3 linked regions of the Homo sapiens genome follow. The protein of the gene in region 1 interacts with the protein of each later gene in a pairwise test. Each region holds a gene or a part of one and is shown in the gene's direction. Other genes may lie near its edges. The genes, in order: TBKBP1, KLHL2 and CTNND2.

Region 1 (3,752 bases):
TGCAGGGAGCTCTCCAACTCCAAGTCCAGTGTGGGACTGACCCTGTGGTGGGGCCCTCTGGGCCTCATCCAGTTACAGAAGAACAAGGAGCAGGAAGAACAGCTTGGAGAGATGATCCAGGCCTACGAGAAACTCTGCGTGGAGAAGAGTGACTTGGAGACAGAGCTGAGGGAGATGGTGAGGCCTGGGGAGCCGGAGGTGCTTGAGGATGTGTAGCTGGTTGTGTGTGTGCATGTGTGCATTTAGTTCTGTGTGTGAGGATTCCAGCCTGTGACAGTGCAGTCCCATGTGTCACACATCACTTGTTTGTGCCCTGCTTGTGTTCATGTGTATCTGTGAGTGCCCGCCCATTTGCCCTTGTGAGGGAGACTGCATGTGTTATCCATGTTGCGGTGTCTGTGTGCATCCTGGCCATGCAGTGGCCCCGTGGGAACCTCTGTCTCTGTGTGTATGCCTGGCTGTCACGCTGGGGTGACCCTGTGCCTGTGAGCACTGCCCTGGCTCTCACGCTGGGGTGACCCTGTGCCTGTGAGCACTGCCCTTGGGAGGCTGTGAGGGTGAGGGCAGAGGTGACCAGGAGTGTGTGACTGCTAGGATGGGCCTGTGCTTGGGTGTGCTTCCGAGTCAGGGTATGGCTGTGCCGGTGAGCAGGTCAAAATCAAGAGACAGGCCAGGTATGGTGGCTCACGCCTATAATCTCAGCACTTTGGGAGGTTAAGGAGTTTGAGACCAGCCTGGGCAACATAGTGAAACCCCATCTCTACAAAAAATACAAAAAAGAAGTTAGCCAGGTGTGGTGGTGCACACCTGTGGTCCCAGCTACTCAGGAGGCTGAGGTGGGAGGATCGCTTTAGCCCAGGAGATCGAAGCTTTGGTGAGCCAAGATCAAGCCACTGCACTCCAGCCTGGGTGACATAGCCAGACCCTGTCTCCAAAAAAAAAAAAAAAAAAAAAAAAAATCAGGAGACATGGTCTCAGCCAACCCTAAGCTATGACCTCAGTTAAGTCACTTAGCCTCCATCCCTCCTCTGAAAAGTGGGGCAAATATTAACACCCTCACCAGGTTGTGGTGAGGGTGATGGGGCATTCATGTATAGATGCTTTGCCTTCATAATCATAGATATTTATGTGGCACTCGGGGTGTGCCAGGCACTGTTCTTTTCACCTGGCATACACTAGCTCATTTTAATTCTCAAAACAACCCTAAGAGGTGAGTGTGGGACTGTTATCCCCATTTTATGGATCAGGTGGGTGAAGTCCAGAAGCTCTTGTCATGTATGCAAATGGAAGTTCTGATGCTCCTGAGGGGGGCTGGCCTCCAAACAGGGGGCTGAGTGTTCTTTTAAGTGTCCCTGTGTGTTAATGACAGAGCAGGGGCATTAACTTGACCTCGCCAGGGGCAACAGCCCGCAACAGCTGCATTGCGGTGGCTGAGAGGAGACTTTGCACTCACAGCCACTTGGAGAGTGGGCTTGGGATGTGTGACCTGGGGCCTCTGCTGTAGTCTGGGGTGATGACTCTCCAGACATGGGGAAGTCCTGGGCCTGTGCAGACCCTCCCCTCTGTCTCTCTCTCCAGAGGGCCCTGGTGGAGACGCACCTGCGTCAGATCTGTGGTTTGGAGCAGCAGCTGCGGCAACAGCAAGGCCTCCAGGATGCAGCCTTCTCCAACCTGAGCCCACCGCCAGCCCCCGCCCCTCCCTGCACTGATTTAGACCTGCACTACCTGGCACTGAGAGGGGGATCTGGCTTGAGTCATGGTGAGATCTCAGTGACCCCGACTTACCTCCTAGTCCCCAACCCCCATTTCAACATTCCTAGACACCTCGCACTTACTTACCATCCCATTTGTAATATAATCTATTTCTCCATAATCATCCCATCCTCCCTTACCTGCTGTCCCCTCACCTCACCCACTGTTACCCTAATTTCTCCCCTTCTAACTCGGTCATTCCTGATCACCTCGTTGCAATTCCTGTGCCTGCCAGCAGAGGGCGCCCCCACCCAGAGTCCCCCCGCCCCGTCTCTGGCTGTGACTAGGAGAGGCCCTTGCAGATGCTCTAGACTTGAGTCTGGCCAGTAAAGCCTTCAAGAGCCCATCTTATTTTTTTCCTGGCCTCCAGGAAAATTAGAAATGCGGCTCAGCCCATCTTTCCTCGCTGCCCTTGTCGCAGTCATCCCTCCTTGGCTAGCTGTCCTGGCTTCTCTCTTGGAGTCCCCATGCTGCATCCTCCTGTTTCACTCTGGCTCTGGGAGCTGGAGGAGGCAGCTGAGCTCGCCTGACGTTGTCCTGTCCACCGACAGCAGGCTGGCCGGGCTCCACACCCAGTGTGAGTGACCTGGAGCGGCGGCGGCTAGAAGAGGCTTTGGAGGCCGCGCAGGGAGAGGCCCGGGGGGCTCAGCTCCGGGAGGAGCAGCTCCAGGCCGAGTGCGAGCGGCTGCAGGGGGAGCTGAAGCAGCTGCAGGAGACCCGGGCCCAGGTAAATGCAGGGGCCTGGAACAGCTTCTGGAGGTCCAGGGCTGGGCCTTCCCCACTGTGTGCAGACTGGCCCAGGGAACTGTAGACAAGGGCCCTGGCAGGGGTGAGCTTGGGCTCTGACCTCTTCATCTTCTTCCTTAGGATCTGGCCTCCAACCAGTCGGAGCGAGACATGGCGTGGGTGAAAAGAGTTGGGGATGATCAGTAAGTCACATTGGTAACCCTGGTCCCTCCGTGATGTTTGGGAGACCTCCCCTCCCAGCCCTCAGGGGTGTGGTGTCTGGGCTGCTGTTGCTCTGTGTGCATCCTTCATAGGAAGGAGGTGGGGTTCTTTTTTTTTTTTTTTGAGATGGAGTTTCGCTCTTGTTGCCCAGGCTGGAGTGCAATGGCGTGATCTTGGCTCACCGCAACCTCTGCCTCTCGGGTTCAAGCAATTCTCCTGCCTCAGCCTCCCGAGTAGCTGGGATTACAGGCATGCACCACCATGCCTAGCTAATTTTTTTTTTTTTTTTGAGACGGAGTCTTGCTCTGTCACCCAGGCTTGAGTGCAGTGGCGCAATCTCGGCTCACTGCAAGCTCCGCGTCCTGGTTCACGCCATTCTCCTGCCTCAGCCTCCTGAGTAGCTAGGACTACAGGCGCTCGCCACTACGCCTGGCTAATTTTTTTTTGTATTTTTAGTAGAGATGGGGTTTCACTGCGTTAGCCAGGATGGTCTCGATCTCCTGACCTTGTGATCCGCCCGCCTCGGCCTCCCAAAGTGCTGGGATTATAGGAGTGAGCCACTGCGCCCGGACCTTTTTTTTTTTTTTTTTTTTTTTTTTTGGATTTTTAGTAGAGATGGGGTTTCTCCATGTTGGTCAGGCTGGTCTCGACTCCTGGGAGGTGGGGTTCTTGAGTGTTTGGGATCTGGGACATTCCCTTTGCTTTCCTCTGGGGCCCAAACCCATCTCTTCTGGAGATGCCAGGGCTAAGTGACACTTACTCGGCTGCTTTGTCGCTGTGTCCAGTGTAATGTCCCCTGCTGAGCTTTTGGGCCTCCGTAGGGCCCCATTTTCTATTCCAGTGACAAGGCCCGGCCAGTTGGGTTCACCCTCCCCTCCCTAGTGAGGAAGAGGGAGGTGGTGTTTCTTGGGATTTGTTGGGCCTTGTCTGCTGATCTCAGGAGAGAGAAGCCTGAGGCTTAGAGACAGGAGAGGTTTCCATGGGTTCACACAGCCGTGGGGTGGGGAGTTAGAATCTGCTCTGCTAGGGTACTCCCTTGAATCCTACCAAGA
Region 2 (3,752 bases), on another chromosome or scaffold:
TGAAAAGTTGTTTCATATTTTGATTTAGACAACATTACTTGAGTTTATTTGATAATCAGGAAGAGAGAGAAATCTGAAAGCTTACTTTTCAGTTTGTTTTTCCTTCTCAATCAATGATGTTTATTTTCTATGCAAATAACAAAATTTGAATTATTTACTTCTATAATTTACAAGATACAGTATAATCCAATTGAGCATATATTTTAAAATTATTTAAGTTCATAAGAGTATTTTAAAATCTCACCCTCATTCCATATTCCTGATAATCTGAAACAAACTTCTGATAAGATCTGTTCAGCTCTTCCTTTTTAATAACCTAGGCTAAGGACCTCATCCAAGCACCTAAATTATTGGAAAGAAAGAACTAAGCTGGCAAAGAGTGGAGGACATGTATTCAATGTTAAGCGGGGAGAGGTGAAAGCATCCATATAAATTTGAAATAGCAAGCAGCTTACAAGCCAGATTTCAAAAGTTTTCATAAGTATGGTAAATTATGACACCAAGAGTGGAGTAAAAATGAAATAAATTTGAATTAGATGATTATATATAGACCTTTAATACCTAGCACATCTGTAATAGGTTCTCAATATGAATTTGATTGTGTTGAAGTAAACTGAATAAACTGGAACCATCAAACACTGCAGGAAGGTGCATCCTTTTGGCAAAGTGATTTGGCTCCTATCGCCTAAAAGGAATCTGGTGTTGTGAGTTAGTGGGTTAGTAAAATTGATGTCTTCTGAATGTATAGCTAAGATATTCAAATGGATGTATGGACCAACCTCCCTTTCTGCAGTGGGATGCTCTTTAATCTGTGAGCCCCTCATAGATATGATTGGGAAAACTCTTTAGAACAATATAGTCTCCTTGTTCATGCCTTCCATCATAGCAGGGCCATTTTTGAGATCATTTTTTCTCTCACAGTCCTATGTTGTCCATCAATAGGCTGAAATACAGTGTTGCATACACATGTAACTACTGTGTGGAGCTTGTGTGGCAGCAGCATTTGATTCTTGCTTTTAAGTATTTGAACAACTTTAAAATGGTATGAGTTTTTTTCCTACAAAGTTTTGTAGATTTGGGCAGCATTATTCGGGATTCTTTGATGCCCTCTAGTATAAGTTCATAGTAGCACTGAACTTTTTATAAGAAATTAAATGTACTTTTAAAAAATTACATTGAAATAGCTTTTTAAAAGCATTTACCATTAGACTCAGCAGTTTTCCTTCTAATAATTTATATTAAGAAAAATTGCTCAAGTATTCAAAACACTGTTCAGGGGATCTTTGTTCATTGCAACATCATTGGTAACAGCAAAAAAATCAAAATTACTTAAATATCCATCAGTAAAAAAATGATTAAATAAACTGTCATACATAAAAATTACATTTATATTTATTAACTTGAGGAAATGTCCAAGGTAGGTTGGTTGGCCAGGGTGGGTAAGTTATTTAATAAAGTAGCATGTGTAGTGTGAGCTACTTTGGGGTTAAAAAAGAAAGTGTCTGAGTATATATGCATGGAGAAAAGTTAGCCAGAGTAGAGATCAAAATTTTAATGGTCATTATTCTAAGAGACATAAGGTTGGAGGTCATCTTTTTTTCTTATAATACTTTTCTAGATGTTTTGAATTTTTGCAAAGAAAAGAGTTATTTTAATAGATAAATAATATTGTTCTCTTTAAAGGGAGATAAAATAGCTAACCATTCAGTGTGATAATTAAAATTAAGAATATTTTTACCTTCTACTAACATATATTTTCTTCCTTAAGATTCCCTAAGTAGCTGACTTTGACTTTTTATTAAAAAAAAAAAAATGAGGGTCAAAATAGTTTCTAACCTATAATGTTGTGAAAATTAGGTAGAATAATGCATATATAAAGTAACTACTGCATAAATGACACTCAGTAGGAGCTTAGAAGTGGTATTATGGTCTCCTAATATAGAAAGAATTCTTTTTTTTTTTTTTGGAGACAGAGTCTCACTCTGTTGCCCAGGCTGGAGAGCAGTGGTGTGGTCTTGGCTCTCTGTAGCCTCTGCCTCCCTGGGTTCAAGTGATTCTCCGGCTTCAGCCTCTTGGAGTAGCTGGGACCACAGGCACACTCCCCCATGCCTGGCTGATTTTTGTATTTTTAGTAGAGATGGGGTTTTGCCATGTTGCCCAGGCTCATCTCGAACTCCTGACTTCAAGTGATCTGCCCACCTTGGCCTTCCAAAGTGCTGGGATTACAGGCGTGAGCCATGGTGCCTGGCTATCCTAATATAAAACGAATTCTTTTCATGCTCACTATTTTCTCTTCTTGCCTCCTTTCAAAGAAATTAGTGTCTCTGGATTACCTCACTAAACATGTACAGTGATACTCATATTCATCCCAATTTTTTAAATAATTGTTTTCTCTCTGTAATTTTTTAAAGGAGTTTGTGCAGTTAATGGTCTGTTATATGTTGTTGGAGGGGATGATGGTTCCTGTAACTTGGCGTCAGTAGAATATTATAACCCAACAACCGATAAATGGACAGTTGTGTCATCGTGTATGAGCACAGGGAGAAGTTATGCAGGTAACAGTTGTCTCTAAAGTCAATTTCCGTACAAAAAGATGACCTCATTATGAATGTTATATTAACGAAGTTTTTCTGTTATAAGAATAAAGTCTTTTCTCAAGGTATAGTTTATATCTTATTCTTAAGATGATTAACATTGGCTGTGTATATTCTGAAATAAAGCACCAGTATACTTTTGTCATTCTACAGTCATTTGTATTCAAAATCCCAAATCTTTGATATACAAAATCATATAATAAAATTTAATGTAGCTAAAATCTGTATGCAGAGGAGAAGAATTCATATGTGGCAAGGCTTTAATTCCTGAGATGTCCAAGAAATAGGATAGGATTCCTACATCTCCCCATGGTGTGGCTCCATGAGATAGTATTATAGTGAGGCTGTGGAATAATTTTTCTTTCTTAAGCATAGTACTGGTTGAGTTATAAAATGTGATTTTTTGGTCCATTCTCTTAGTAAGATAAATGTTAATTTTAATAAATATTATGGTGAGTCTTTATGTTATTTATTTCAATTATATTTATCTTGCTTTTAATAGTATAATGTTTCTGTAACAAAATTGATCCAATAGTGGAGGAAGAAAATGTTTAAGCTCATTAACCATCACTGTTGCTTATGTATCATTCAAAACAGTACTGAGAAGAACTATGTACAGTAGAATTCCAGTATAACATGGGTGAATATTAGATGAATTTTTAAAACAACTTCATTGAGGTATAAACTGACAGAATACATAGCGTACAGTTGACCCTTGGACAACACAGGTTTGAACTGTGTATGTCCACTTACATGTGGATTTTTTTCAATAATTATGTTGGAAAAATTTTTTTGGAGATTGGTAACAGTTTGAAAAAACTCAGATGCACTGCATAACCTAGAAATATTGAAAAAATTAAGTTTAAGATTATGAACACATAAAATATACGTAGATACTAGTCTGTTTTATCATTTACTACAAAATATCTACAAATCTGTTACAAAAAGTTAAAATTTATCAAAACATATGCACACAAACTCTTATGGGAACAAACACCCACAAACCATAGATGGTGTCATTCACAGTCCAGAGAAATGTGAACAAACCACAAAGATACAATATTAAATCATAACTGCATGAAATTAACTGTAGTATGTTACTGTACTACTATAATAATTTTATAGCCGTCTCCTGTTGCTGTATTGGTGAGCTCAGCT
Region 3 (3,752 bases), on another chromosome or scaffold:
GCACTCCAGCCTGAGTGACAAAGCGAGACCCTGTCTCAAAAAAAAAAAAAGACTTAACTATGCATACTTTCCAAACATCCTTTTGAGCTTCTACCAGTCCACCCCATAATTACAAAGAGAAATATCATGTTGAACGGTATCTATCTAGCTGACAACAGGATTTTTGTTCAGGAACTAGAAACAAAGAGCTTTGCTGTTTTGATGACCAATATTTAAATGATAACAAAACCGGAATCTTGAGTTCCTTCCTGGTGTCCTTAGTTCCACTGTCACGTGAGCAGGCCAGTTGTAATTGTCTGCAGAAATGAGGAAGATGAGATCCCAGGAGGATACGTGTTTCCTTCAGTCCCCCAGCCAGGAAGAGGCAAATACTCATCTTGGTTCTTCTGTCTTCCTGTCCCATTTTTTTTACCTCTGTGCCAATGGTTCTCAAATTGGAGCATGAGCCAGAATTCCCCAAAGGGCTGTTAAAGCACAGATTGCTGGGGCCCATCGCCAGAGGCCCTGATTCAGTAGGTCTGGAGTGGGACCCAGTAATCTGCATTTCTAACAAGTTCCCAGGTGATGCTGATGCTGCTGGTCTTGGGATTATGCTTTGAAGACCACTGATACTTCATATCTGGCCTCCTTCATTTTCTGTGAACACTCTGAGTCTTTCTATGAACACTCTGAGACATGGAAAAGTTGGAAGAGCTATACTGGGCTACTATTTCCCTTGTGTTCAAAATAAATCCAGTTTCCTGGCAAATTCATTAAGGAATAAACCCAAAGAAGTCTTTTGTCATTATGCTAACAGAGTTGGAAGGTGTCATGACACTATCCTTCATAATTTAGAGTGAATATTCTACTGTTGAGGAAAAAGTTCAGCAAAGATGACTTGGTAGAAACAGAAGCCATGGAACAGAGCGCAGAGAGCGTGAGCATATTGACCCTGGAGTGAGCTGCTGGTCACCACCCCTTTCCAAAACAAGATGCAGCGTTAAGGCAAAGAAGGCAAAAGCTTCGGGCTTGCGTATTCCTGGGCTTCTCTAGACCGTAACAGACACCCAGATTCAGAAATCCCCTCTGCTCTATTGGGGCATCATTCTACATCCCTCATCCAAATCTGGCTGATGCAAACTGTGCAATTTTTAATGCATTTATTTTTAGCTCTTATGTGAGGAGGGCTTTGGGAGGGGTCATTTCATCAGCCAGATTTTCAACTGTCAGATATTCCCTTAAAGTTTAAAATGCAGCCAATATTCCTCCACTGTGGATGTGTTTCACCAGCAAACGTCCATACCACAAGAGCAAATACCACAAGACGTCCATACCACAAGAGCAAATACCACAAGATACCACAAGAGCAAATACCACAGAAATGTCCATACCACAAGAGCAAATACCACAGTGAGCAAATTCTGTCTCTCCGGGTGCAGCAGTGACACGTGTCACCTGTGACAGTTCATTTGTACACACTTTTGGGACTGGGGCACCAAACCTCAGAAGTGATTGGTGTGGGATTTTATGAACAGTACAGATGAATGAAGAAGTTAATTCTCTGGGGTAAGAGGCTGAAAAAGCTGATACCCAGCTCCCAAATGTTCACCAACCAGAGAGAACATGACAACAGTCAAAGCAATTTGAACGAGGTTGTGCAAAAGAACCAAAAAAATGAAAGCAGAAGCCACTTTGGAGGAGAGCTATAACCCTTGTGAGTGACTCCTCCTGAAGATGTCCCTGTCCCCTGCACTGCCTTCCCTGGCCCCCAAAAATCCATAAGAAAACACACCGCTTCTTGGTCTCTTTTGTCCACCGACTTTCTTATCTTAGAGCCTAGAGTCAGCTCCTTGAGGCCTGTCCTCCAAGGTTTGGCCACCTTGGCTCTGATGGGACTGGACTACGTTGGTAGAACACCTGGGTTTTAGAGTCAGCCAGCCGTATGTTCCAGTTCCAGTTCACAACACCACTAGCTATGACGTTTTGGAGAAGTTTCTTAACTTCTCTGTGCTTCAGTTTTCTCATCTATAAGGTGGGAGTTTGCTTGAGGGATGGATGGATGGATGGATTGGTGGGTGGATAGGAAGACAGACAGATGATAGATTATAGATATTGATGTAGACAGACACAAACACACATAAATATTTATGACTACTGGAGTATTAAAGAATTTGCTAAATGTTGAATAGGGTGCCCTGCTGAACAAGAAACACAGCAAATCTAGTTCCCTCCCTGTATAATTTTTCCAAACTTCTAGATTCTGAGCCTTTGCATGTCTTGCACTTGGAAAACAGCCCTGTGTTGGAGTGGAGTTCAGCAGCACACAAGCAGAGCTCTTCAAAGAATAGCAAAGGGCACCCCAACCTAGCAACGCAGTCCAGTAGACCTGGACTTAGCAGTATTTAATTGCAGATGTTGCACATTCATTCCAAATGTTCCTCTCATCCTTTGTTAGCTCTCAGGCTAACAAAGGTTTATCCTCTATGGACTTTTGGACTTCTGTAGGTAGACAGAAACCTCATTCATTCAGCTACCACTAACTAGACACGTGGGACATCCTAGACAGCTGCTGTGATGAAGTTCACCACTTCTTTGAAGATCAGGTTGATTACTAGTATAAATCAATGACATATATAAGAGGGAGTTTCACTTACTTGAGAGAAGAATTATGTGTAAGCCTTTAAAAGCATTCATTTACACACAACGTGCTAATTACAAATCATTATCTATTAACTAAGACCAATTTCTAGAGAACGTTTCCGTGCTGAACTTTAGTTAAATTAATAGGGAGTCACTGAGTCCACCCAAAAGTGATCAAACAGTATTTCTTTAAGAGTGTTTAATAATTCACACCAGATCTCCTCCCCAATTACTGCACATTAGCAGAGCTTTGTGCATCCCGGTATGCACTTGCTGTAGGGTTAACCTCACCCTATACCTTGGGAGGTTCTGCTCATTTCAGGGGCAGGTGCTTGAAAAGGGACCCCAGGGACTAGAACAGATACAAATGCACCAATGTTTATTGCAACATTATTTACAGCAGCTAAAAGGTAAAAATAACCCAAGCGTCCATCAATGGATGAATGGATAAATAAAATGTGGTCTATGCATACCATGGACTATTTTATTCTTATATATATACAATCATGGGGGTGCAAGTGCAGTTTTGCTACATTGAGGTAAAGTCATGGCCTTCAGTGCATTCATCAGTGGAGCAATGCACATCATACAGTGGAATATTATTCAGCCACAAAAACGGATCAAGGTCTGCCATGTGCAACACCATGGATGGACCATGCAAACTTTATGCTAAGTGAAAGAAGCCAGTCACACAAGGACAAACACTCTCTGCAGTGCCTATATTAGGCAGATTTCTAGAGACAGAAAGTAGAATGGTGCTTGCCATGGGCTGAGAGAGAGGGGATGAGGAATTACATTTAATGGGCACAGAGTTTCTGTTTGGGATGATTTAAAAAGTGGTGGAAACGGATGGTGGTGATGGTTGCACAACACTGTGAATGTTCTTAATGCCACCTAATTAATCTTACACTTCAACATTTCTTAAAGCAAGCTGTTTTATGTTATGTATATTTTGCCATGATAAAGATTATGTAGAATGATAGCACGTGGACCTAGGATCCAATTTTCAAAAGGAAAGCCAATGACAGTTGGCAGTTTTGGAGAAGCAGGGCCACAGTGGTGAATGCCTGGATATACACAGCCTATTCTTTGAAGGAGAGTTGGGTGCCGGGGCAAGAGGCAGGCTGAGTCAA

Evidence for each region.
Region 2: the proteins of TBKBP1 (region 1) and KLHL2 interact in a two-hybrid assay, tested with the Homo sapiens proteins (one study listed by BioGRID).
Region 3: the proteins of TBKBP1 (region 1) and CTNND2 interact in a two-hybrid assay, tested with the Homo sapiens proteins (one study listed by BioGRID).

What each region holds. Positions count from the first base shown.
Region 1 is NC_000017.11:47,697,017-47,700,768, forward strand, and holds part of TBKBP1 (TANK-binding kinase 1-binding protein 1), read left to right. Parts: intron 1-72; coding exon 73-177; intron 178-1,578; coding exon 1,579-1,759; intron 1,760-2,303; coding exon 2,304-2,479; intron 2,480-2,619; coding exon 2,620-2,681; intron 2,682-3,752.
Region 2 is NC_000004.12:165,315,415-165,319,166, forward strand, and holds part of KLHL2 (kelch-like protein 2), read left to right. Parts: intron 1-2,411; coding exon 2,412-2,555; intron 2,556-3,752. UniProt on the Homo sapiens protein: Substrate-specific adapter of a BCR (BTB-CUL3-RBX1) E3 ubiquitin ligase complex that mediates the ubiquitination of target proteins, such as NPTXR, WNK1, WNK3 and WNK4, leading most often to their proteasomal degradation.
Region 3 is NC_000005.10:10,973,756-10,977,507, reverse strand, and holds part of CTNND2 (catenin delta-2), read left to right. Parts: intron 1-3,752. UniProt on the Homo sapiens protein: Has a critical role in neuronal development, particularly in the formation and/or maintenance of dendritic spines and synapses. Involved in the regulation of Wnt signaling.